6 separate regions of the Homo sapiens genome follow, and regions 1, 2, 3, 5 and 6 are each linked to region 4. Evidence: fine-mapped expression QTL. A gene starts in region 4. Each other region holds a variant in brackets. All regions are shown on one strand. Distances are from middle to middle. Region 1 overlaps CSGALNACT1 (chondroitin sulfate N-acetylgalactosaminyltransferase 1). Region 2 overlaps CSGALNACT1 (chondroitin sulfate N-acetylgalactosaminyltransferase 1). Region 3 overlaps CSGALNACT1 (chondroitin sulfate N-acetylgalactosaminyltransferase 1). Region 4 holds the start of CSGALNACT1 (chondroitin sulfate N-acetylgalactosaminyltransferase 1). Region 5 overlaps CSGALNACT1 (chondroitin sulfate N-acetylgalactosaminyltransferase 1). Region 6 overlaps CSGALNACT1 (chondroitin sulfate N-acetylgalactosaminyltransferase 1).

What was found. PIP is the estimated chance that this variant, and not a neighbour inherited with it, causes the effect.
Region 1: its variant is the best candidate, but not a certain one, in a credible set for the expression of CSGALNACT1 in skeletal muscle (GTEx, PIP 0.65).
Region 2: its variant is the best candidate, but not a certain one, in a credible set for the expression of CSGALNACT1 in esophagus mucosa (GTEx, PIP 0.72).
Region 3: its variant is the best candidate, but not a certain one, in a credible set for the expression of CSGALNACT1 in left ventricle (GTEx, PIP 0.85).
Region 5: its variant is the best candidate, but not a certain one, in a credible set for the expression of CSGALNACT1 in prefrontal cortex (BrainSeq, PIP 0.79).
Region 6: its variant is the best candidate, but not a certain one, in a credible set for the expression of CSGALNACT1 in whole blood (INTERVAL, PIP 0.62).

The regions. Positions count from the first base shown.
Region 1 is chr8:19,420,403-19,424,499 of GRCh38, reverse strand. CSGALNACT1 (chondroitin sulfate N-acetylgalactosaminyltransferase 1) reads left to right here. Exons shown (of 9, transcript NM_001354483.2): 6 at 3,982-4,097. Among named protein-coding and RNA genes, the nearest start is that of SH2D4A, 110 kb to the right of the region's middle. The variant G/T (reference allele first, on the strand shown) is at 1,859.
Region 2 is chr8:19,514,165-19,518,261 of GRCh38, reverse strand. The region is part of intron 2 of CSGALNACT1 (chondroitin sulfate N-acetylgalactosaminyltransferase 1); the gene reads left to right. Among named protein-coding and RNA genes, the nearest start is that of CSGALNACT1-AS1, 160 kb to the left of the region's middle. The variant G/A (reference allele first, on the strand shown) is at 1,718.
Region 3 is chr8:19,687,353-19,691,449 of GRCh38, reverse strand. All of the region lies in intron 1 of CSGALNACT1 (chondroitin sulfate N-acetylgalactosaminyltransferase 1), which reads left to right. CSGALNACT1-AS1 (CSGALNACT1 antisense RNA 1) reads right to left here. Exons shown (of 2, transcript XR_007060841.1): 2 at 1,888-2,726. Among named protein-coding and RNA genes, the nearest start is that of CSGALNACT1-AS1, 11 kb to the right of the region's middle. The variant G/A (reference allele first, on the strand shown) is at 1,654.
Region 4 is chr8:19,755,168-19,759,264 of GRCh38, reverse strand. CSGALNACT1 (chondroitin sulfate N-acetylgalactosaminyltransferase 1) reads left to right here and starts at 1,988. Exons shown (of 9, transcript NM_001354483.2): 1 at 1,988-2,079.
Region 5 is chr8:19,451,907-19,456,003 of GRCh38, reverse strand. All of the region lies in intron 4 of CSGALNACT1 (chondroitin sulfate N-acetylgalactosaminyltransferase 1), which reads left to right. Among named protein-coding and RNA genes, the nearest start is that of SH2D4A, 140 kb to the right of the region's middle. The variant A/C (reference allele first, on the strand shown) is at 1,977.
Region 6 is chr8:19,702,824-19,706,910 of GRCh38, reverse strand. All of the region lies in intron 1 of CSGALNACT1 (chondroitin sulfate N-acetylgalactosaminyltransferase 1), which reads left to right. Among named protein-coding and RNA genes, the nearest start is that of CSGALNACT1-AS1, 26 kb to the right of the region's middle. The variant A/G (reference allele first, on the strand shown) is at 2,425.

The sequences.
Region 1 (4,097 bases), 330 kb after region 4:
ATGGTTTTTCCAGTTCAGTCCTCTTTTTTGGCAGAGGGTCTTGGTAATTATCAGAGGCTCTTCCTGATGGCAAGAGAGGAGTTGGAGGGGTTCTTTCAGATCACTGGTTTATTGGAAAAAAGCCTTGGGTTGAGGAATCAGGAAGGAAAATTGTACCATTATTCATCCTCAGACGGACCCCTAGCTGAGCATAATGACCTGGCAGCCACCCTGGGAAACACAGATGGATGACAGAGTTAGCACTCTGGGCCTTCTCCAGTGTCTGTGACTGCCTGATGGTGCTTCCCAAGCCAGCAGTGACTCTGTCCCCACCCTGCCTTCTGTGCACACTCATGTTCAGCTCTCTCATCAGGACCTGGTGAGTGGTCAGGGCTTCAGAGCAGCTCTAACATGGACCCATACTGCCAAGCCAGCAATGTTGCCTTCTGGCCAGTGTTGATCAGGGTGGATGAAAGTCCCAGGCAAAGCTAGATCAGGGCAGAGTCCTGCGTGGGGCAGGGAGAACAGGCAAGCCGAGGTGTCTGGTGCTGTGTGTGTGTGCGCCGGCCCCCATATGGTCCACATGGAAACAGTGCGTGGACAGAGCTGGGTACCACTTCCCAGGGCTTTCTGTGCAGCCTGTGGACACATGAAGTGAATTCAAAATGCATATTCAGATTGGGTAGTGCCATGGATATAACATGCATTGTCTTTTCCTTGTAGAAAGGTTGCATGAAGAGAAAGGAAGCAAATTGCCTTTTGCATTAGGCCATATAAAGTGTTCCCCAGCATCCATTTGCCTGAATTTTCTTTCTCTAGAAGCAACACATCATGGAAGCATAGGGATTTACATTTTAAGGCTTAAAAAAAAAGTTCTTCCAAATTAAGGTCATGTCAGACACTAGGTACCTTAAGTTCTTCCCACCCCTTTTCCCATGACTATGACAGGAAGCCCATCCTGTACCCAATCCTCTGTTGCAGCAGAGGAGAGAACAGCATTTATTAGCAACAGCTCAAGCCAGGGTTAGGGGATTCATGCACAGAATAAACTAGATTAACTTGTGCATTAGGTAAGCATGCACACCACCAAATTACCACTCTTCCCTCTAAATTTGTAGCACTGTCTCTACCGTTCACTCAGCAGTTAATCAATCACTTGTAGACTCGTCATTTCTTTCATGCTGTTTCCTCAGTTTCTAACACTGTCTTGTATTCTTATTTAATTACTCAACATGATTTAACTTTTGTAAATATTTGGCCTATCTATACAAATGGACTGTAGGCTGTTCAAGGGGGAGATTCTTGATGTCGCAGCTCATTTAATGCAGCCTATTAAGAGCCTATGTTCTTCTTCCCTTGGCAAAAGTCACTTGCTGTTGTTCAGGTATTTTTGTAGTTGAACTCTCCTGTAGTAGATCCTAGAAACCCTCCTGGAGAAGGTACCTGAATTATGAGTCAGGTGCAACCTGAGTGAGGAAGGACTTGCTCATACATTGTGTTTGTGCTCTGAAAGTTAGAAGATATCCCTGTATAATGGGGAGGAAGAGGTCCCAAAAGATAGGAACCTGGAAACAGCGAAGAAAGAGAATTGCTACTGGCTGTATATATTAAATACATAGAAAGTTAAAGCAAGATGGACTCCAGGATCAGGTGCCTTTAGATGAACAGGTAAAAATCCAGGCATCTCCCATGGGTAAACCTTTCCTGGAAACTGACCAAACCGGGAAGGGAAAAATGGGTTGACCTGACTTACAGGAGCTGGGGCTGCAGACACCTCTAAGAGACATGAAGGTGCTCGCAGTGACCTCACACCATCTGAATGTCTTTGGAGACGGGAGGATAGCGTGTCCTTGACTGGTGCCATACCTAATACTGAAAA[G/T]GTTTTGAGCATAACTTCAATGCAACACACAGAAAATGTGCAATGGGGGCACCCCCCCAGAGAAAAGACTCAAGATAAAGTTCTGAAAGAGGAAGAGAATCCCTGCAAATGTAGAGTGGTGCTGAAGTGAATGCAGGATCATAGGAAAAATAGAGTCTTGTCCAGGTGTGGTATCTCATGCCTGTAATCCTAGCACTTTGGGAGGCCGAGGCAGTAGTACCGCATGAAGCCAAGAGTTGGGCAACAAAGTGAGACTCTGTCTCTATAAAAAATTTTTAAGAATTAGCTGGGCATGGTAGCATGCACTTGTAGTCCCAGCTACTTGGGACTTGGCTGAGAGAAGAGGATTGCTTGAGCCCAGGAGTTTGAGGCTGTAGTGAGCTATGATCATGCCACTGCACTCCAGCCTGGGTGACAGAGCAAGACCCTGTCTCTAAAAGAAAAAGTGTATTATATACAAGTATATATAATGTACATATGTAAAGTAAGTTTTTTTAACCAAAGAAAAATAGCGTCTTAGTGTGTAAAGGGGAATTTGAGCTCTGTAACCACTGGATTTTGTACCTGGAAACAGAGACAAAAGGGGTAGAGTGACTTGCCTCAAATCCATCAGAGGCACAGCTAGGTTTAGAATGATTCATACATTCATACACTCATTCAGAAACATCTGTTGAACACTTATGGGGCCCCAGGCACAGTTCTAGTCCTGGATCCAGGTTTCCAGACTCCTAGACCAGTGCTCTACCCATCATGAGGCCTCCTAACCTGATCCAAATCTGAAAGGCATGTTTGGCATCAAACTCTGACATGGGCTCACTGATCCCTAAGATAAGAATCCAAGCTCACTCCCAGATCCAAAAGAAGAAGATGAGTCAAGGAGGGAGTCGCAGAACTAGTTTTACTGATTCAATTCCAGATACAAATACAACTTAGCATTTTAAAAGTTTATGACTCTATGTTTGCGTTGGCCTTTACCCGAGACGGGTACTTGGAATGCAAACTTTACAAACTGGAAATGAGTTTCTGTACCTTTTGGAAAGAAACAGTAGAGAGAAGTTGGGGCATGGGGATAGGCCAGGTAGCTGGTAGGACGGGGAGTGTGAGAGGAAAGGAAGCCATTAGGAAAAGAAGGGTGTCGTTGACAGGAAAAGGGATTTGCTAGGCTGAAAGAAGACTGAAGGTGGTTCTCTAGTATTATCTGGTAGAAGACAATACCTGTCCCACTGGGCATGGAATGAATTCGTGGAACGTTAGCTTAAGACAGGCCCCATTTCAGAAGGTTCTGCTGTCCCTGGGAAAGAACAACGAATGCGAGAAACATCCTGGCTTCACTGCCTGGGGCCTGGGAATCCTTGCCCATGCTAATCACAGCAATAGCTGATGCTTACAGAGTGCTGTATACTCTTGGCACTGTTTATCTCACTAATAACCCTGTGGGATAGTGAAGGAAGGTGTTACTACACCTATTTAGCAGATGAGGCAACTGAGGTTCAGGAAGATTCATGGGCTGGCCTAGATCACAGAGCTATCTGTAGGAGAGCCAGGCCTGAAACAGTCCTCTTCTAACTGCAAGTTGGTCATTTTTCCTGCCATGCTGTGCTGCTTTACCCGAGGATGCGGAAGGAATCTGGGTTTAAATCTGTTTGGAGGAAAGATTCACATCAAGAACATTTTGCCTGGCTCCTGGATGTGAATGCAGATGAAAAGATGCTAAGTGGGGCCATTGCAATGTGATCTTATTTCCTTGGCTCAGTGGCCTCATTCGGTTGGCTCAGGATGCACGAAGATTTTCCAGGGTTGTGTTTCTAGTCTTACCTGGTTCAAGTTTTCTCCATCACAAAGAATAGTCATTAATGATGACAAGAGTGTTTTCAATACGGGGAAACTGCCAGAGAAACAAGGAAGAAATTAGTGTTAAAACTCCACTAGGTGTTCTTGGTACCTTCGATCCCAGTGAGTATCCTGTGAGTCTGGGCCGTTCTGTAACTTCTTGGGGAGTCCCAGTGCCCTCAGGTTACAAAAGAAATGGGTCAAGATGTGGATGGGCCCTGATTACATATTTTCTCAGGGGATGCTGCCAACATGTGGGAATGTGAGTGACAGTACCTGGTCTTGCCTTTCAGAGCTGCCAACTTCAGGAACTTTACCTTCATCCAGCTGAATGGAGAATTTTCTCGGGGAAAGGGACTTGATGTTGGAGCCCGCTTCTGGAAGGGAAGCAACGTCCTTCTCTTTTTCT
Region 2 (4,097 bases), 240 kb after region 4:
TTCAGGCTGCTCTTAGTTAGAAAATGATTTGGGGCTGCTTTTCATTTAAAAGAAAGCCTTACTGAGGACTCCCATACCCTTACTATTTGCCTAAGTGATTGCTTCTTAACTCCTGTATCAGAAAGTACTTGGCTGGGGAGTGTTGCTCATTTTTAAATTAGTCCCCTCTTTGTTAATTAACAGCATGCATTTCTCTAGAAGCTGTGTGATGCTACCTCAGACCCTGATCTCTCCAGGTGCTTACTTTCCTGAGTCTTGGAGTCTCCCCAGTGCCAGGGCTGGTTTCTGCCTGCACAGAAGAATGTTAGTTTGACACATGGCCATTACATGGGCATCTACTTTTGCAGTGCTCTAGAGGAAAGAAGAGAGAACTGAGTGTGATATGGTTTGGCTGTGTCTCCACCCAAATCTCATCTTGAATTGTAGCTCCTATAATTCCCACATGTTGTGGGAGGGACCTGGTGGGAGATAATTGAATCATGGGTGTGGTTTCCCCTATAATGTTCTCCTGATAGTGAATAAGTCTCAGGAGATCTGATGTTTTTGTCAGGGGAAACCCCTTTGGCTTGGCTCTCATTCTCTCTTGAGTGCTGCCTTGTAAGACGAACTGTTCCCCTTCTGCCATGATTGTGAGGCCTCCCCAGCCATGTGGAACTGTGAGTCCATTAAGCCTCTTTTTCTTTATAAATGACCCACTCTCGGGCACGTCTTTATCAGCAGTATGAAAACAGACTAATACACAGTGTTTTGCAGGAGAGCCTTCCACAGTGATCACTTTAACCCTTCTAGAGATATTCTCTTTTTCTTCTTTTCTTTTTTTTGAGATGGAGTTTCACTCTTGTTGACTATGCTGGAGTACAGTGGTGCAATCTCGGCTCACGGCAACCTCTGCCTCCCAGATTCAAGCGATTCTCCTGCCTCAGCCTCCCGAGCAACTGGGATTACAGGCATGTGCCACCACACCCAGCTAATTTTGTATTTTTAGTAGAGATGGTTTTTCTCCATGTTGGTCAGGCTGCTGATCTCGAACTCCCAAACTCAGGTGATCTTCCCACCTCGGCCTCCCAAAGTGCTGGGATTACAGATGTGAGTCACCATGCCTGGCCCTCTTTTTCTTCTTTCAAAGAACATTTCTTAGTTGCTTAAAAATTCTACTTGCCGTGATGCTTTTTAGTTGAGATGCTTCGAACTTGATATGTGAGTATAAACTCCTGGCGTCTTACACCCACATATCAGGTTTGAGGCATCTCAACTAAAAACCAACCACCTCTCCAGGTGGGCAGTGGGTCATGGCCAAAGTAGGGAATGGAGAACAGGAAATAAATGTGGCTGCAGATTCCAGCTGGAAATGGAAACTCCAGGAGCAAAGGCAGCACTTGAACCACTGAGACTGCCGTGGCCGCTGTGTTCACCTCGATCCCCAGAAAGCAGCCACTTCCAGCATCTCACCCCCTCCTGGGGGCTCCCATCATGGAAGCCTAAGGGCCAGGCCCAAGGAGTAATGGGTGACATTCCCCCAGCCCACCCAGAGCCTGGTCTGTGGAGGCCACACGGCTGGAGGGTCTGGTGGAATCACTTAGAAACACTTGAATGTTGCGAAGATATTCTGCCTGGCCCTAGTTGCAGGGACAGAGCAAGGCTCACACCGGGATGGGGATTATTTGTCAGGATAGTGTGAGTTTGCCTAGCTGTTGAGAGATGTGTAAATGCAGATCAC[G/A]GCTACATGGGGGTACAAAACATTTTAACTAGAGAAGCAGTGATTCATGCCACGTTTGAGGGGCCAGGCAAGCTCATAAATAATATTTATGAGTTCAGAAACAAGAAAAATTGGACACGCTGGGTGTAGAATGAGGAGCAGGTCTCAGCAAGCAGTTTGAGATTATGAAGCGGGTTGAACAGTATAGCGTAGTGGGTAAGAATCAGACGGAGCTGGGTTTGAAGCTGGGCTCTGCTACTTGCCAGCTGAACATCTGGGTCAAGTTACTTCATTGCTTTAAGCTTCAGTTTCTGTTTCTTTAATGGGGTTAATAAGATGTAGCTCATAGGATCGTTTTGAGGATTAAATGAGATAATATTTGTGAAGTGCTTTGTATGATGTCTGGCCCCAACGTAAATGCTCACTAAGTGCTTGTAATTATGAACGAGGGGAGGGTGTTGGAAGGCTGGTTTCATGCGGTTCTCAGTTTGGGGTGAGAACCGGCACCAAGAGCCCCAAAAGACTCCGGGAGTCAGGTCTCCTTGCGGGGTTTGGCAGCTGACTCAGCCCCACATGTGTGCTTGAGATGTCTTACAGCTGGAAGAAGCGTCTTTATTCTGTACACCTGGCTTGAGTAGCATCTTCTTATGCCAGTGTCCTGCCCTCATTGCACCTTCTGGGGTCCATGACCACCACCCATGCCAACTACCTGCCTTAGGTCTTCCTGAAGCAAGGGTGGCAGTTGTAAGGAATGGGACTAGACGGTCTGGCATAGACAGGAAGCCCCTCTCCATCAAGCCTCCTCTCTAAAAGTTTGCCAGCAAATTAAAAATCAAAATAAAAAAAAAATAGGACTTGAGTCTGTTTCTTGACCTTTTGGTGCTTGTGGTTGTGATCAGTGTGCTTTCATTTTCTGATTAGCAGGTGCCAGCTTCTTTTTGCCACATTTCCCTTTTTCTGCTTCAAGGCAGGGAAATTGAATCAGAATTCTTTTACTTAGTTATTTATTTTTTTGATTTACACTTATGTGTTTATTCTCAGTTGCTTTTCTATTGAGAATTCTTTTAAAAGACCAACGAGGAGTTGAGGGGATGGAGGATCCCTCCCAACTAGGGAATTCCTGACTGTGAAGTCATTTGCAAGCCCATTCCCCTGGGCTGGGTCAGTGCTGGTCCCTGGAGAACACGCCCTCTGAGTCTGCAGATAGGGGGACCTCACAGGGAAGACTCAAGGAGCATCTTGAAGGCTGAGCCTAAGTCTTTTGGGTGAGGAAGGAAGGGAAGTGGGTTGTGGGTGGAGTCCCGGCAGTTTGGTCACATGGCCTGACAGCAGGTGCTGAGGACCTGAGATAGAGATAGTGGGGTCCAGAGGCAGGAAAGGACATGGCCTGACAGCAGGTGCTAGGGACCTGAGATAGAGACAGTGGGGTCCAGAGGCAGGAAAGGCACTCTGAGGCTGGGTTCCCGAAGGAATGGGGGATCAAGGCATGATCCTGGCACTGGGGACCTGGAATCAGTTGTGGCAAGAGCCCTGCCCCAAGGACACTTGTAATGCAGTCAGAAGATCAACTACTGGAAACCTGGAGCTAGGTATCTGTGGGCTCCAGGATGGTCCATCAGGGTGAGACAATATTATTTAAAAATATTTTACGCTTTATTATTTTAGATATATTGTAAATACATAATACTACATTATAAAGCTTGTATTTAATATTTTATTTTTATTTTCTTTTGGAGACGGAGTTTCACTCTGTCCCCCAGGCTGGAGTACAGTGGAGTGATCTCAGCTCACTGCAACCTCCACCTCCCAGGTTCAAGTGATTTTCCTTCCTCAGCCTCCCAAGCAGCTGGGACTACAGGCATGAGCCACCATGCCAGGCTAATTCTCTTCTGTATTTTTTTTTTTTTGGTAGAGACGGGGTTTCACCATGTTGGCCAGTCTGGTCTCAAACTCCTAACCTCAAGGGATCTGCCCACCTCAGCCTCCCTAAGCACTAGGATTACAGGCGAGAGCCACTGTGCCTGGCCTGTATATAATTTTTAAATAGATACATGTATATATATATATATATATATATATATATATATATAGTCTCTGTTCAAAAGTCATATGATGCCTGAAATGTGCTATTTTTGTTTAATTAATGTTTGGAGACAGCTGGTCTTGAGTATTGAGGAAAGAGGAGGAAAAGCAGCAAAACTGCTAGGGCCACCAAGGCAGCTGTCCACACAGATTGCTGTCTGTGTGAAACCCGAGCCAGTACCTGTGCTAAGTAGCTCGGTGTCAGGGCTGGAGGGGGTCAGGGAAGAAGGCTTCAGATCCTTCCACAGCCAACTCCAAACTCTTGGCATTTAATTGTTGACTCCCCAGTGGGACCCCTGTCCTCTCGCTGGGATTTGGC
Region 3 (4,097 bases), 68 kb after region 4:
TTGTTTTTGTTTTGTTTTGTTTGTTTTAAGAAATTGGGCCCTGTTTGATTAGTGGTATTTTCCCTTTTGGTCCAAATGACCCTGGTAGCTGAGGTTGGCTGTGTTGTCAAAAACAGTGAGATCTAGAAGCCCTGCTCAGCGGTGTTTGGGAGGAGGCCTGTGCATCGTTGGCTGAAATTTATGGGGAACTTCCCAGGAACCCAGCTTGACCCCTTTGCTCACCACCTGCTGCCTGGAGCATTACCCCCACACTCAGACCTATCTGTTTTCTCCTTCGGGCGTGGCCTCTTGCCTTGGCTGACATTTCATTTTATGATAAGCCGCAGAGAGTTTTATTTGTGTTTTTCTTCTTTTCTTTGAGACTAGGTCTCACTCTGTTGTCCAAGCTTGAGTGCAGTGGTGCAATTGCCACTCACTGCAGCCTTGAACTCCTGGATTCAAGCAATCTTCCTCTCTTGGCCTTCCTAAGTGCTGGCATTACAGACATGAGCCACAGTGCCCAGTGCCATGGAGATTTTTAATAAGGCAATCTTTATTAATGGTTGCTGTGGTCATTGCCAGTGACCTTCACAGAGTCGTGAAATCTTTTGCTTATCCCTGATCTCAGACATCTGAACAACAAACTCTAATTTCCCAAATTACCCGTTGAGCAAAGTAGTCCTTAGGAAGACCTAGGCTTGCAGGATAGAAAGGGTGGGATAACACACCCCCTCCTTCCATGCGGAGTTTCAATCACATATTATTAATTCAGAGTATCGTTATTGCTCCATCTGCAAACTGCAAATGTGAATTCCAGCCATGTATTTTTAAACAGCTCTATTATGATCAAGCAAATTTGAACCTCTCATGTAGTTTATTACAAGTGGGCTTTGGTTATAGAGGAAAAAAATCTGTTTTATATATGTTTTCTATTTTGTCATTTTTGGTAAGCTGTAGTCAAACTCTGAGTTAGGAGAAAGATGAGCTCTTTGACTATTTAATAGTTCTATATATCACACTTGTGGTAGCTTTTGTCATTTTTTTTTCTTAGCAGAAACAGAATGTTAAGGCCCAAAGTAGAGATATCTAAGTCCTGGGAGCAGGATGATATTAGAAATACTGATGAATTTATAATAGTATGGAGAATTAATCTGGATAACGAAGATTTTAAAATAGCATTACTTGGCTATAAATGCAGTTAATGTTGCCTTCTGGAAGGAAAAGAGGTAAAATTATATCTTCTGTTACTTTAGCAATTGATTTGAAAAGTATTCATGTATTAATTGTCCACTCAATATTAGGAAATGTATTAGAATATAACTGCTTTGAACCTTTTCCAAAAAAGTTTTATCCAGATTGTAGTAAATTTATACCTGCAGTTGTCTCTACAATATAGTGTTTTATTTGTTGAGTCCTGTTAAAATTCAACACATTTAGTTTGAAACTCAAATTGGCTTTAATGATTAGTGATTCATGAACTGGGCATCATTTCATCTAAAGATGCAGAAAAGGGACTCTGGATCAGGCATTGGCGGTTGGTTTTTAAAAGGTGGCTTGAGCAGGAACAAGAAAACAGCATAGCGCAAAAAAGCAGATTGTTAATATCAGGTTACTCTACGTCACTTTCCTTGTAAGGGTTCAAGCACAGGGGACTTCTTTATGCTAAAACTTGCT[G/A]TTTGGGGATTTAACTAGCATCTCTCTCTCTTGATTTCTCAGGTCAGATAAATAGCTTAGTTTTGGTTTGGTGATGTGGAACTTTAGCATGAGTGACTCTATTTTGGTTGGATCTGTTGAAGCCTAGAGCAGGAGCTCAGTCTAAATCAATGGCCTCCTATAAATCTTAATAGTTTAATACATAGAAAATTCTCAGCATCTTTCTCATAGAATTTTTAAGCAGAAGCCAGAATCTTTTATAGTCGTGTGTATCAGTTATTTATTGCTGTGTAGCAAACCTCTTCAAAACAGTGGCTCAAAACAACAGTTATTGAGTTCGGAAATAGGCAACTTGGGCATGGCTAGGCATGGAAGGTTTGGGTTCCATGCAGTGTCAGCTGGGACCGTTCAGGGGGCTGGAGAATCCTCTTTCAAGATGGCTGCTCAAAAGGCTGTTGACCAGAGCTCAGTTGGGGTCCAGGGCCGGGGTCCTGGTTCCTCTCCAAATGGCCCTCTTCATGTAGAACACGCCATGGGCTGCCTGGACCTTGTCATACCATGGTAGCTGGGTTATAAGAGTGATTGTTCCAGGAGAACCAGGTGGAGAACTATAATACAGTCTTTTATGACATCGTCTTGGAAGGCACATGGCATCGCTACTGCTGTGCTGTACTCCTTGGCCCAGATTGCAGAGGACGGGGCAATAGGAGATGGATTAAGAGGAGAATCAAAGATTTTGGTATGTTTTAAAACTGCCATACTCCATTAGAAGCCTCTCATTAACATTTACCCTAGCCAAACTGTGGCTTCTAAATGAAAGACTGATCACTTGTTGCTAAGGTGACACTGCACTGTTATCCATAATTACGTGGACATGCATGGCTGCACGTCCAGATAGGAATCAATTTTGTCCCAGTTAGGCGAGTCCTGAGCAGTGTTCATTATCTTCGGACCATGGTGCATGTGGAGGAGGTTGGCGAGGGCAGTTCTGTTGGGATGGTAGGGATGGAAGTCAGACTGCTGGGCTGCTGGGAACAACTGGGAGATGATGATCTGGAAGCAGCAGGTGTAGACGATGCTCTCAGAGTGCTTAGCTGAGACAGGAAAGAGGGAGAAGGATACAGTGGGCTGAGAGAGCTTTCATATTCCTATCTATTTTATCAGCTTTTTCTTTTTTTAAAATAAAGATGAGAGAATAGGGTGAAGGGAAGGAGTCAATGCAAAGTATAAGGTGGCATTGTTTCTATCATGTATGTGACATAATTTCTGGATTTTAAGTGCAGGGCTCCTGGCACAGCACATATACAATGGGCACTGGTTAAACATTTGCTTTAGAACAAAGGAATTCCACCTTTAGAAAAATGTCACTTAGCAATTGCCCACCACCTGCGTGACCCCTTGCCTTCCCCTTCAGGGTGTGGCCACTTGTCTACCATTTTGTTTTATATTAGACCAAAGAGATTTTTTTTTACAGAATCAATCTCCCATGTGGATGGATGCTGCAGCAACCCTGGTGACGTCCCTATAGGTATGAATTGTTCTCCTCACCCTGATCTCAAAGATCTTACCAATCAACTCCATCTATTTCCCTAAATTACCCATTGAGGAAAGCAGCCCATGGGAAGACACAGGGCTTCAAGAAGGCCCCACCGATGTCTCCAGGGACCAAATACTGATCTAGTCAGAGAGTTGTTCACTCTGGGGGTGTCAACTGGCCATGTGTAAAATGGGAAATGAACACCTACTTCAGAGGGATGTTTTGAGAGGAGGGCTGTGAGATTGATGACTCCTATAAAGTAGATTCTAAACGGTAAATTGTACCTTGCAAACCACAACACGGATGTAAGAAACTGATTATTTGTCATCCTGTAAGTCAGTGGCTGTTTATGTGTTCTCAGAAACTTGATTCTTTTTCCTCTGAGGGTTATACAGTATCTGCTTCAGTCACTTTTCCATTTACTGACTTCTACAAGAAATTGTCCTGGAAGTGTCAGCCATTGAAAAACAGCAATAATTTTTGCTTCATGATCTACAGTTGTAATGGACATAGTAATAATAGTATTGTCTTTATGTAGTCTTTTTCTTTATAAGGAGTAAAGATCAAAGACTAGAGTTGATAATAGGTGAATGGAGTTTCATTTCTGGAACTGCATGTCTTTAAAAGCCAAATTTTCTCTGACATGTGAGAAATGGTTGATATTTCAGGAATTATATTAGTGTGGTAATGGACCAAGGCATACAACATGGACGGAGTAACATAATCCAGTTTATACTTTGTGCTAATTAACTTCTATGTGAAAAGAACTTCCATTTTAGTTAATTTCATTTTTTTTTAGTAATTTGCATCACATCTGTACGGCATTGTACATTGAGATTGTTGTGATATGCACATATATAATATATTTTAGTGGGGCATCTCTTTTGGAGCAGCTATACTCTTTTTCTAAAGCAAAACTTCTGATGGG
Region 4 (4,097 bases):
CTGACCTCAGGCGATCCACTCACTTCGGCCTCCCAAAGTGCTGGGATTACAGGCGTGAGCCACCGCGCCCGGCCTCTATCTCTTTCTTTTAGATAACAGCTATAGAACCAATTGCAGCAACAAGGACGCCTCCTCCACCCTCCCCAAGCCTGTCCACATAGTCTAGAACCTGAGTCCAACCGTGTGTGTCTGTGGTGGGCCCTGGCAGTTACTGCTCAAGTCCTCTGGGCTGTCTTCCAGACCAGATTCCATGCTGAAACTGTATTTTCTAATTCTGCAGATATCACTGAGCAGAAGGACGGGAGATGCTTCAGGAGAGGAAAGAAAATCAATGCTTTGACAACACACCTGCCAATATAGGGAGGTGTAGGAATGCTTCGGTGGCAGTGGGAAGGCTCTGAAGAGGTTACTTGGTTACCCAAAGAGTGCTTGACTGTGAAGGTTCTAACCTTTACACAACTCATAACCAACGCCAGCCTCCATGTCCTGCCCTCCGTCTGCAAAATGGGGAGTATCATGATTTGCCTTAAGAGGGTGCTGTGTGATAATGTGGGAAGGAGCCTTGGCCAATGGCTTGTACCTATGTATGTGTGTACGTATGCTGTGTTAACTATTTATTACCTCCATTATGCAGCATTTTGGGGCAGTAGCAGAATAGACATATTTTTCATTCATTTGGAAAACACCCACTTCCCTGTTTCCCAAGTCTCAATTGAATTGCAGTGGGTATATTAGGTCACGAGGGTGAAGAGTTCACTCAGGGTGTGGGGTGGGGATAGGTCCACCTGGGGAGTCCAGGTGGGAAGCAAAACTTGCTTCAGGGATGCTTCCTGCAGGTAAGCAGGAGCTTAATGGAAACCGAGCTGCTTCAAGACTGTGCCTATAGCCTCAGGACTGCCTACCCTGTGCCCACAATAAAGTCTGGTGCGCCGGAATCTCCCAGATGGAGACTCTGAGCCAGGCAGTAGAAGGAGCCATGGCCAGGTAGTAGAAAGAGCACTGCCTCAGGAGTCATAGGACTGGTTTCCAGCTCCGGTTCTGCGGTGGCTCAGCCCTGGGGCCTCTGCAAGTTGCTTAACCGCATCTGCAGGTGATGACCTCTTCCAGTCTAACTGACTCCTCCTGAGTCCCCCTCAATTACACTGAAAATTGGCGATCCTATTTCCCAACTCCCTCTCCCACAGAGATGCGCTGGAGCACTTACAGATAAAAGGCGACCTGTGGCCCTGGAGGGTGCCTGCCTGTGTGTGCTGGAGGTGGCGGTGGATCTTTTATTACCCAACACTCCACTTGCCTTTTTAGCCTTTCCTCTCCCTCTTCTCTCCTGGCCTCCCAGTGGCCGTCAGGGGTCCCTGCAGACATCGCTTACCCACAGTGGTGCGGTGTGAGAGTTACAGGGGTTCCTGACCTTCGCTGTAAGTAAAAGCTCTCTAGGGGAGGCGTTATAGCTGACCAGGGCAGCAGAGACCGCGACTAAAGCGTGAATTCCCCGAAGTGCGATTTACAAAGTTTTTGCATGGAAGTCGGCGCTCGGCGGGGAGGGCAGCCAAGGGAACAGAGCGGGTGGAGCAGGGGGATGGGGAACTCTGTCCTGCAAGAGTAAGGACCCCATGGAGATTGGACACCTCTCTCCTGCAACTCGGGCCACGCCACAGTGTCCTAGTCTCTAAACTTCTCCGGCTCTTGGTGTCCAGTCACGCGTAAACCGCCCCTGGTGTCCGAGCGCGGCCCCTTCCGAGAGTGACAGGCTTCGGCCAGGGCGCCGCTCCGACGGGCGCAGGGACGCACTGCAGAGAGGCCGTGGGTGACGCGGAGGTACGCGGCCAACCGCGACCCCAGCCCGGCCTTGGCCGCCCCCGCCGGACCTACCCTGCGGCGGGGCGCCAGGCTTGGCCGCTGTTGCGCCCGCCCGCCCGAGCCGCCGCCGCCGCCGCTGCTCCCCGCCCCCGGGGTCCCTGGAGGCTCCGCGGCTGCCGGAGCGGGAGGTGGAGCCGAGTCCGCGGCGGCCGCGCAGGAGGGAAAGTTCAGCGACGGCGGCAGCGGCCGGAGCCGGGCCGGGCAGCTAGCAGGGCGCTTCGGGTGAGTCGGGTCCCCTCCCGGGCCAGCCGGGCGCGGTGTGCCGCGCGGGGGCGTCAGTGGCGCCGGCAGATCCCCACAGCCCCGCGCGCCTAGCTCGCGCCCGCCCACCCCGCGACCTCGGGGTGGCTCGTGCAGCTGCGGAGGACGGTGCCGCGCCTGGCCTCCCTCCGCCGCTGCCCGCCGGGGGCCCAGGGCACGGGCAGGGGCCGGGGACCGGCTTGGCAGGCGGAGGGCGCGGCGCCTCCAGGTGGGCGCGCGGGGACGCGGAGGGAGCTTCCAGGGAGGGTCCGGGGCCGCTGCGCTCCCGGGGTCGGTTTGGCTTCACCAGCGTTTCTCGTGGCCTTCCGCTGTCTGATTGCTTTCTGCAAAACCCACTGAAAAGTAGCCTTTCCACGTGCCGCGCGATGACTGCGGTTATTGTATTATTGTGGCTGGGATGGAGAGGGTGGAGGGGGCGTGACGAGGGTGGCCGGTGGGCAGCGCGCTCGCCTGCCCGGGACCGGGCTAGTGGGGGATGTGGCTGAGGGTCACCGCTGCCCGAACATGCCCAGGGGACGTGCGATCGGTGGGCAGAAGCTGTTCGAGGGCATGATCTTGGGGTGGGATGGGGGCTAGAAGGGCGGGGAGGAGAGGAAAGCTGTAGGAAGCGGAGGCAAAGTTGTTTGTTTCCGTCGCACTTCCTGCACCTGCATTCCTGTCAGAGATTTTGAAGTTATCTTTTCATCGATGAGCAAAGAATGGTGAGAAAGGAAGAGATGTTAACAGCACTGTGCCTGCCAAAACAGTGAGCCTCGGGAAATACTCATAAGTGAAATACTAATAAAAAGCATGGAGTGGTTAAATTTCACAAACTCCACTTTTCTTCTGGTTTCAAAGCCTTGGTGCAGTTTTTACTTAACGTCATTAGATACGTCTAGATAATAAAGGTAATGAAGTGTTCTTTCACGGTTTTTTTTTTTAAACTGGAAATTTAAATTTAATTCTGTAGGATTTCGTCGACATTGTTCCTACAAGAAAGTCAAATTACCTTGGTGTTACTTGCAACAGTGAGCATTAATAAGCCCTGTGCAGTGCTGAAATGTTGCTAATTGGAGGGAGAAAGGTCCTTCAAACTTGGAAATAGACGCAGAAAGGCAAGATGAATTTTTATGTAAGCCTTAGGCATAAAAGGCGACTTGAACACGTTTTGTAATAGTGCATAATACACAGGGGACTAGGTGTTGGGCTGCCGGAAGATGGTCAATTCCTAGAAAGCAAGAGACGGGCCATACCCATTGTAAGATCACCGTACATATTTAATAATTCGTCTGCCTTGAGCTGCCACACCATATGTACTCCACATAATACAATATCAAAATACTTTAATCCTGTTCATCTTTGTGTGCTAAATCTTATATGTCTATTTGTAAAATGTATTAGTGGGTTTTAAAGCAGAATCTCCGACATTTGGATTCATCCGTTTACATTACAGTGCAGTGAGCTTGTGTCTTTGCTGTTCCAGAGACCTGAGCTCCAGGCGGCTTCTTCCACTTATTAATTGCATGACCTTGGGCAAGTTACTTCCCCTTTCCTAGCCTTGGTGTCCTAATTTGTAAAATGCCAATAGTATTCCTCACCTTATAGAGATGTTTAGCAGGAGGAAATTACATTTGGGAACTTATCCTAGTGCCCCGAGCACACAGTATGCACTTCATAAATGTTGTCTTTTTTTTTTTTTTTTTTTTTTTTTGTCTTTCTTTACATTTAGGGATCCCCAACTCCAGCATGTTTCAACATTTAAAAAAAATTGTAAAAATTCCTTCTTCTTTGTAACCCTACTTTCTATTCATTTATCTATTGATTATTTATTGGAGAATCTCAGATACTGCCCAGTATAGGTGTTGAAAATAAGGAGTTGAAACTTTGGGGCAATACTTCAGCTTTTTCTTGTATCTTCCTAAGAATCCATCCTAAGTTCATATGATGATGAATGATACTTACCAATCTTCATGTTGCTCTAGCTCTGTTCTTAATGCCAT
Region 5 (4,097 bases), 300 kb after region 4:
GGACTTTTACTATTTGGATGTCCCTTGCTCGTGGAGGTAGGAAGGGATGGGTGGCGGAAGACTTGTGACCTGGAGAGGATGTTTTGAGAGCCTTTTGCATGTGCTAGACATGCTACCAAGGTGCAGGGGATCAGAAGATGAATTGAAGATGCGGTGCCTACTTTCACTAATAGCAGAAGCTGCAAATGCAGAGCCAGGCGCTGTGGCAGAGATACAGACAGGGGACAATGGGACACAAAGAGAATCTGGCCAGGACAGCTGACACTGGAGCAGGAGGCTGAGTAGGGAGTTTATGTCACAGTCAAGGCATTTCTGAGACTGTTGATGTCTCTGAAAAACTGGGATGCGAGAGGGTAAATACCTGTGGGTATTTAATGCTTCATAAAACCTTATTAAAGATGGCATTTCAAACCCAAAGAAGGGGTTATTCAGGGCATGGTGTCAGGACAACTAGCCAAACATAGCAGAAAAAAATGTGATTCTTATTTCACACCAAAAAAGCAAAGTAAACTCCAATTAAATAATTAAATGCAATTAACATGACCATAAAGTTACTGGGAGAAAATATAAAGGGCTGCTTAATAAATATTTGATGTTGTCTTTATAAATTCCTTTCCATCCCCAGACTGGAGACTGTGAACTGTGGTTGACACTGAGGATGACACTGGAAGCGATTTGTATTTCCTTTTTTGCCTCTGTTTTCTAAATATTTATATAGCTACCATATGTTTTATATTTTGTTTAAAGATTCAGTGAAAGATTATTTTTGGATTTTATAATTTAAACATGACTTTTTAGTTTGTAAAAGGTAATACTTGGCTATTATAAGATGTTTAAGCAGTGTAGAACAGCACGAGGAATAAATTATTTAAAAAGTCACTCCAGGTCTCACCTCCTAGAATTAACCCTTATTAACATGAGTTGAACATCACTTTGGGCAATTTTCTTTGCATATCTGCAGATAGAAGAATTGCTTGCCAGCTGGGAATAAGTCAGTGCAACATGAGATATACTATACATTCTATTTCTACTTATAGAATTAAAATGTATCTTGCTTAAATTTATAGAAAAAAACCGGAAGTATAATAAAGGATTTGCTGAACTTTAAGAAAATGTGTCTTCACTGTGAGAGACATTAGTTCCCAAGAGATCTCGCTGAAGTTAAAAAGTGATTTTTGCAAAACAAAAAGTGGTTGGAAATATTTTTTTTTTTTACTACATTTTGTAAGTTTGATTGAAACATTTCAGTACAAAACGAAATCAGCACAGCTACACTTTCTGCCTTCTGTGTCTCATCTTCTGATTTTTGTTAGCAATCATTTATTTATTTATTTTGAGACAGAGTCTCACTGTCACCCAGGCTGGAGTGCAGTGGCAGAACCTTAGCTCACCACAGCCTCCATCTCCCAGGTTCAAGCGATTCTCCTGCCTCAGCCTCCCGAGTAGCTGGGATTACAGGCATGTACCACCACACCTGGCTAATTTTTGTATTTTTAGTAGAGACTGGGTTTCACCACGTTGGTCAGGCTGGTCTCAAACTCCTGACGTCAAGTGATCTGACCACCTTGGCCTCCCAAAGTGCTGGGATTACAGGCGTCAGCCACGTGCCTGGCTGCAATCTGTTACTGTGACCTTGACAGGGTTACAACCTTTACATTCTACTTTATAACTACAGTTTCTGCAGTTCTGGATTTAAGTGGATTTAATGTATTCATCAGCAGTCCTCTTCCAATAGCTTTCCATTCCTGAGTTCTTAGTTGGCTATATTGTATGGTCAAGAAATTTTTTCAAGAAACGTCGCAAGTGTTTGAGAATGGAGTATATACTTGTTGTCATCGTGGACAGTCAGCTTAGCTGGGCTTAAAATTCATGGGACACACTGTCATTCCTCAGGACTTTGTAGATATTCTGGCATTAAATGATCTGGTGAAGTGTAAGACCACTTTACTTTGTCTCTCTCGTAAACGGCTTTTGCC[A/C]GAATGCCTGAAAAATTCCTTCATTAGTCTTTAATCACATTCACTTAATCAGGATATGTCTCATCTCAGCTTCTATTGTTTCCTCCCTCCCTCCCTCCCTACCTTCCTTCTTTCTCATGGAGGAGTATCACTCTGTCACCCAGGCTGGAGTGCAGTGGCACATTCTTGGCTCACTGCAACCTCTGCCTCCCAGGTTCAAGTGCTTCTCGTACCTCAGCCTCCCGAGTAGCTGGGACTACAGGTGCATGACACGACGCCCAGCTGCTTTTGGTACTTTTAGTAGAGATTGGGTTTCACCATGTTCGCCAGGCTGGTCTTGAACTCCTGACCTCAGGGGATCTGCCCACCTCAGCCTCCCAAAATGCTGGGATTATAAGTGTGAGCCACCACACCTGGCCAACGTCTGTTGTTCTTTAACTGATTTTCCTGTAGTACAGTTTCCTGTTTTGCTTTGTGGGTTCTTTCAGGGAAATTTTTGGATGCTTTATTTTTGAGTTCTGTTTGCTTCATTTATTGGATTCTCTGTTTCATGGACACAATTATATATTTTACAGGTCTTCTCCATTTATTAGCATCTCTGTTTTTTTAACACCCTTAGTCTTTTATCTGCTTTTACTTAAACCTTTATTGTGTCAGTAATTTGATTTTCTGACATATCTATTCTGTACCTTCCTATTTCTAATGCATTACTTCTGTGCATTTTGGCTGTTGATTTATTTTCCGAGCACACAGTGTGCCTGCTAATGTTATTCTGTTGTTTTATTGTTTTCTCTTTGGACTTTTTAAAAATTAAATTCATATTCTTGTTAATAAAGTGTGAAACATGTCTAAGAAATTTTCTTCTGTTTGAGTTACATTTTCTTTCAGACCCATTTTTTCTCTTGCTTTAGATGCTATTTCTTAACTTTTTCTTTTAATTTTATTCTGATTCTTGGGATGTGGTTGCTATGATTTCTTTTTTATCTTTTCTCATTACGTGCAGGGGACTACCCAGCCTTCTGTTTGCTCGAACATAGTTTGGGTGGATTCTCCTTGGCTCTCTCCTCATCTTGACTGAGAATTGTTGTGCATATTTTGAGGACAGGGTATTTCTCTGTTTAGTTTATTTGTAGTGTAAAAGCTGGGTGGAGGAGAGGAAGAACCCCCAGGGGCTTTGTGCAGCCTTTGTTGAAGTTCCCTTTTCTTGTGGCTCTTCTGAGCCCTGGGATGGATATGTGAGTTTTGCCCGGCTCGCTTGGTGTAGGGGGAATTAATTGTTTTCCCAAGGGGTAGAGGTATCATACTTGGCTCTCATAATGGCCTTCAAGTAAGGGTTGAGGCCTGGGACATCACAAAGAGTCAGTCCCACTTACTCACGTCTCCAGCTCACTTGCTCACTTGCTCATCTTCAGCAGCTCTTTCCACGCCTACCAGTCAGAGGAAAAAGGAAAGTTTTGGCTCTGTTTCTATCGCTTCTGTGGGATGTGGGGGAGATGCATATATGTCATCAGCTCTCAGCATGTCTCATCCCTTCTCCTCTAACTCTTCAGATAAAAGATCTTGACTAAATGTGATTAGCTTTTTTCCTTTGCTTATGTCAAATCTCCCCTTCCCTGCTTTTTTTTTTTTTCCCCCAGGGGTTAGTTCACAAGTAATTAGGATGGAATTACCTTCCCTCTCCACTTTCATTAAAATTTGTAGAAATACCAAAATAGCCTGCTGTGGCTCTTCCTGCTGCTGGTGCCAAGGTCCTAGGTGGAAGCCAAGGTCTCTTGTGTCTTCCCTAGGTCCCCCAGGCTGCCTTCTCTCACCTGAATCTGTGTCTCCTCTGTTTTCTCGCCAACGAGCTTCCCTTTTGGAGGCGGTCAGTGGGGCCAGGAGCCACAGGAAGCTAATGTAGAAACTTCCATTTCTTTCCTTGGTCTCCACTCTGTTGAAATTGACAGCAGAAGATTATGTCTCCCTCATTGGTCATTTATTGGTGGCAAAATTGTTGCCATTTTCAACTATTTTTGGCACACAGTTTGCAATGATTGCTATTTCAGATTAATGTATTTAAAGCATTATCCTTCCCATGCATCACCTTTAAAATATCAACACCCTTTGCTCTCATACAGTTGGTTGAGGAATCTTTTATGTGTT
Region 6 (4,087 bases), 52 kb after region 4:
TCACACCTGTAATCTCAGCACTTTGGGAGGCCAGGCAGGGAGAATCACTTGAGGACATGAGTTCAAAACCAGCCTGGGCAACATAGCAAGATCCTGTCTCTACAAAAGATTTAAAAAAATGTAGCCAGGCATGGTGGTGCATGCCTGTAGTGCCAGCTACTAGGGAGGCTTGGTGAGGAGGATTGCTTGAGCCGGGAGTGCCCACACCTGATGTCTGGGGTTTGGGCTTCACACACAAGGAGGAGCCTGACCTGCAGATGCTCTGGTAGGTATCCCACTGCCAACATTTATTATTGCTATTTACTTGTTCCCCATTAAAATGATTCCTCTTCTTCCCTTGTGGTTGGAGGCTAAAGAGATGTCCTTCTGGGTGTTTTGTGGACTTGGGGCTAGGAAAAGGCACTCCTTTAAACCTGATTCAGTGTATTCCAGTGTCTGATTTTAGTGCCTGTGTTATTCAATTCCTTGACCTCATGGGCTGCCGTGGCTCCACTGCTCTCTTAGGTTTCCCCAGCCTCCGCCGCAGTTTTCCTTTTAGGAAGTAACACTTCCTTTGAGGATGTGGAGGAAATTCTCTTTATGACAATACAGATACAGATTGAGCCTGGCTTCAGTTCACAAACCACAGGGACAATGACTGCCTTTTTGTAAAATACCTTTAGAGCATGAAGCAGAATTCTCCCTAATCTAAATGAATTAACTATGACATTGGGGAAGGCTTGGTGAGTTCACAAAGACATAAGGCCTCACACAGCTGTCCCCCGTTGTCATCCTTGCATGCTATTTGCTTTGTAAGGGCCCTGTATGATTGGGAGGTGGAGAAATCTATTTTAGTTTTTATTTGATCTGATTAGTATTTTTCCATGTCTGGGTTTATTTGTAGCTACTGCACCTCCAGATTTTTTTGCCTTTGTCTTCATGTTGGAGGGGAGGTTCGGGGATTCAGATAATCAAGTAATACAAGGTAATTGAAGATAATCGAGGAAATGAAAGAAAATGAAAATTAGTCGTGCCCTGTCATTCGATTATTCAGCTTTAACTAGCATCAACATTCTGGAATGTTGCTTTACTTTTATGTTTATGGTTGTATTTATATATTAAACATCTATTCATAATATGTCATGTACAATTTTTGAAACTCTAGCCTTACATTTTTTTCTCTGGATTTTTTTTTGAGACTGGGTCTCGCTCTGTTGCCTAGGCTGGAGTGAAGTAGTGCGATCTCAGCTCACTGCAGCCTCCCCCTCCCCGGCTCAGGCAATCCTCCCACCTCAGGCTTCCGAGTAGTTGGGACTATGGGCATGCACCACCATGCCCGGCTAATTTTTTGTATTTTTTGTAGAGATGGTGTTTCATCATATTGCCTAAGCTGGTCTTGAGCTCCTGGGCTTAAGCCTCCTGCCTCCTGCCTCAGCCTCCCAAAGTGTTAGGATTACAAGTATGAGCCACTGTGCCCAGCCTTCCCTGGATTTTAAAATTCAAATGATGAGCTTTTTCCTTCTAAATATTATTCAAAAACATGTCATTGAATGGATGCATAAAAATGCATTAGAAAATAATTATTGAACATTTAAATTGTTTCCAGTTTTTCCCTGAGTTAATGGAATTCTTGATGTAAGTCTTTGCATAAATAGCTACCCTTGAGTTACTATCCTTAAGGTAGAATTACTGATTTACTTTCTATTTGTTTTTCCCCCAAGTTTATTGAAGTATAATTGGCAAAAATTACATACAGTTAAGGTGTACAATGTGATGCTTTGGTATATGTTGTGAAATGATTACCATAATCAAGCTAATTATCACCTCACATAGTACCTTTTTGTGGTGCAAATACTTAAGATCTACCCTCTTAGCACATTTTAAGTGGGCAATACGTGTATTAACTACAGTCACTATGATGTAGGTTACCAGAACTTATTCATCTTGTAATGGAAAGTTTGCATCATTTAAGCAAAATCTCCCCATTTCCCAACTCTGTTTTCACACAGTAACTACCCTTTTAGTCTGTTTGAGTTCAACTTTTAAAACTTCCATATTGAAATGAGATTGAGCAATGTTTTTCTTTCCATGTCTAGGTTGTTTCACTTAGCATAATGTCCTCCAGGTTCATCCTTGTTATCACAAATGGCAGGATTTTCTACTTTTTTAAGGTAAATAATATTCTGTTTTATGTATATATCACATTTTCTCCATCCATCCATCCATTTATCCACCCATCCATCCATCCATCCGTCTATGGGTACTTAAATTGTTTCCATATCTTATTGTGAATAATGCTGCAGTGAAAATAGTGCAGGTATCTCTTTGAAAAAGTGATTTTATTTCCTTGTGTATATACCCAGAAGTGAGAGTGCTGGATCATAGAGTAGTTCCATTTTTAATTTTTGAAGAACCTCAATACTGTTTTCCATAATGGCTATACCA[A/G]TTTACACTCCTATCAACAATGTATATGGATTCCCTTTTCTCCAAGTCCTCGACAACACTTGATATTTTTGACTTTTTCATCACAGCCATCTTAAGGTGTGAAGTGATAGATGACTGTGGTTTTGATATGCAAGAAATTTATTTTTAAAAAGTATTAATGGTACTTTGGAAAAATTCAAAATTTCTTCTCCATCTAACAATATAATATCGGCCTGGAAGGGTCTGTGATTCAAATGCCCTGTTACCTTTCTTCTTTCTCCTTTGGCAGCACATTCGTTTAGTGCCTTGTTTTTCCAGGGACTGGGGGAAATGGAAGAGAGGAAAGGAGGGAGAGAAGAGAATAAGAATGATCCATGTAATTATGTAATTAACCATCAAGCTTGGTTAATTCAGAGCATTCTCATTCTTTCATTCATTCAAAACTTTAAAAAGTAAGATCTCCCATGTGCAGTGTAGTGTGTTAGGCTTACTGAGTGGGGCTGGAAGAGCAAATCAGACATAGATGATACCCTCAAGGGTCTGACAGCTCTCAGGAAAGATGTCACTGCCAGATATGCACCCGTACTATGTAAGAGGCTCCTGAGAGCTGCGTGTAGGATAAGGGAGGAAAGCCAGTGCATGGGCAGTTTCCTAAAAAACACTGTTAATTGTAACGTACTTTGTAGAGAACTAAACTTAATCACAAAAATTACTTGGTGTAGAATATGTTGTTCTGAGTGAATGAATCTGATAACTTTGTATCAATCAGGGAGACATGCAGACCATGAGAGGATTTCTTGTATTGATTAAACTTTGTTTTACTGTGGAAGGTGCTGTGCAGTCAGTAGTAACCAACTCTCCAGTTACCTGAAGGTCTGAGGAGCACTAAAAACAAAGAGAGGGCTGGGCATGGTGGCTCACACCCACCGGTAATCCCAGCACTTTGGGAGGCCCAGGCGGGTGGATCATGAGGTCAGGAGATCAAGACCATCCTGGCTAACATGGTGAAAACCTGTCTGTACTAAAAATACAGAAAATTAGCCGGGCTTGGTGGCAGGTGCCTGTAGTCCCAGCTACTCAGGAGGCTGAGGCAGGAGAATGGCATGAACCTGGAAGGCAGAGCTTGCAGTGAGCTGAGATCCCGCCGCTGCACTCTAGCCTGGGTGACAGAGTGAGATGGCGTCTCAAAACCAACCAACCAACAAACCAAGAGAGGTCAGCCTGTTCTTATTATGTAACAACTTCGAGTGGCTCAAATCCCAAGTCACATGCCACGTCAATGGCTCCTTCTGAACAAGGGCTGAGCTGCCATGGGTCTAGTTGAGAAGGAAAAGCTCTCGATTTCAGGGTCTTGGGTTATTTTGGTAATAGATCAGAAGACAGTAGCATCCTATTGGAGGGACACTAGTGAGCACTTCCCAATGACCTCCCTTCTTCCCCTGCCTCAGACATCCATAGGGTTACAGGTTTCCCTTTTGAGCTTGAATTCTGTCCACGGTGATCATGTTGATCAGATGAGATATAAAGGGAAGTGAACCCACACCAGGAAGGGGGCTAAGAGGGGTGTAGGGGAAGAAGTGGATCTAGTCATTGGCCCTGGTCTAAGTGGGGGCTACTGGGTGGGGGGCTGGGCTACACTGATTCCCTTTAGGGGAGACCCTGAAACCCAGAGCTTTTCCTTCTG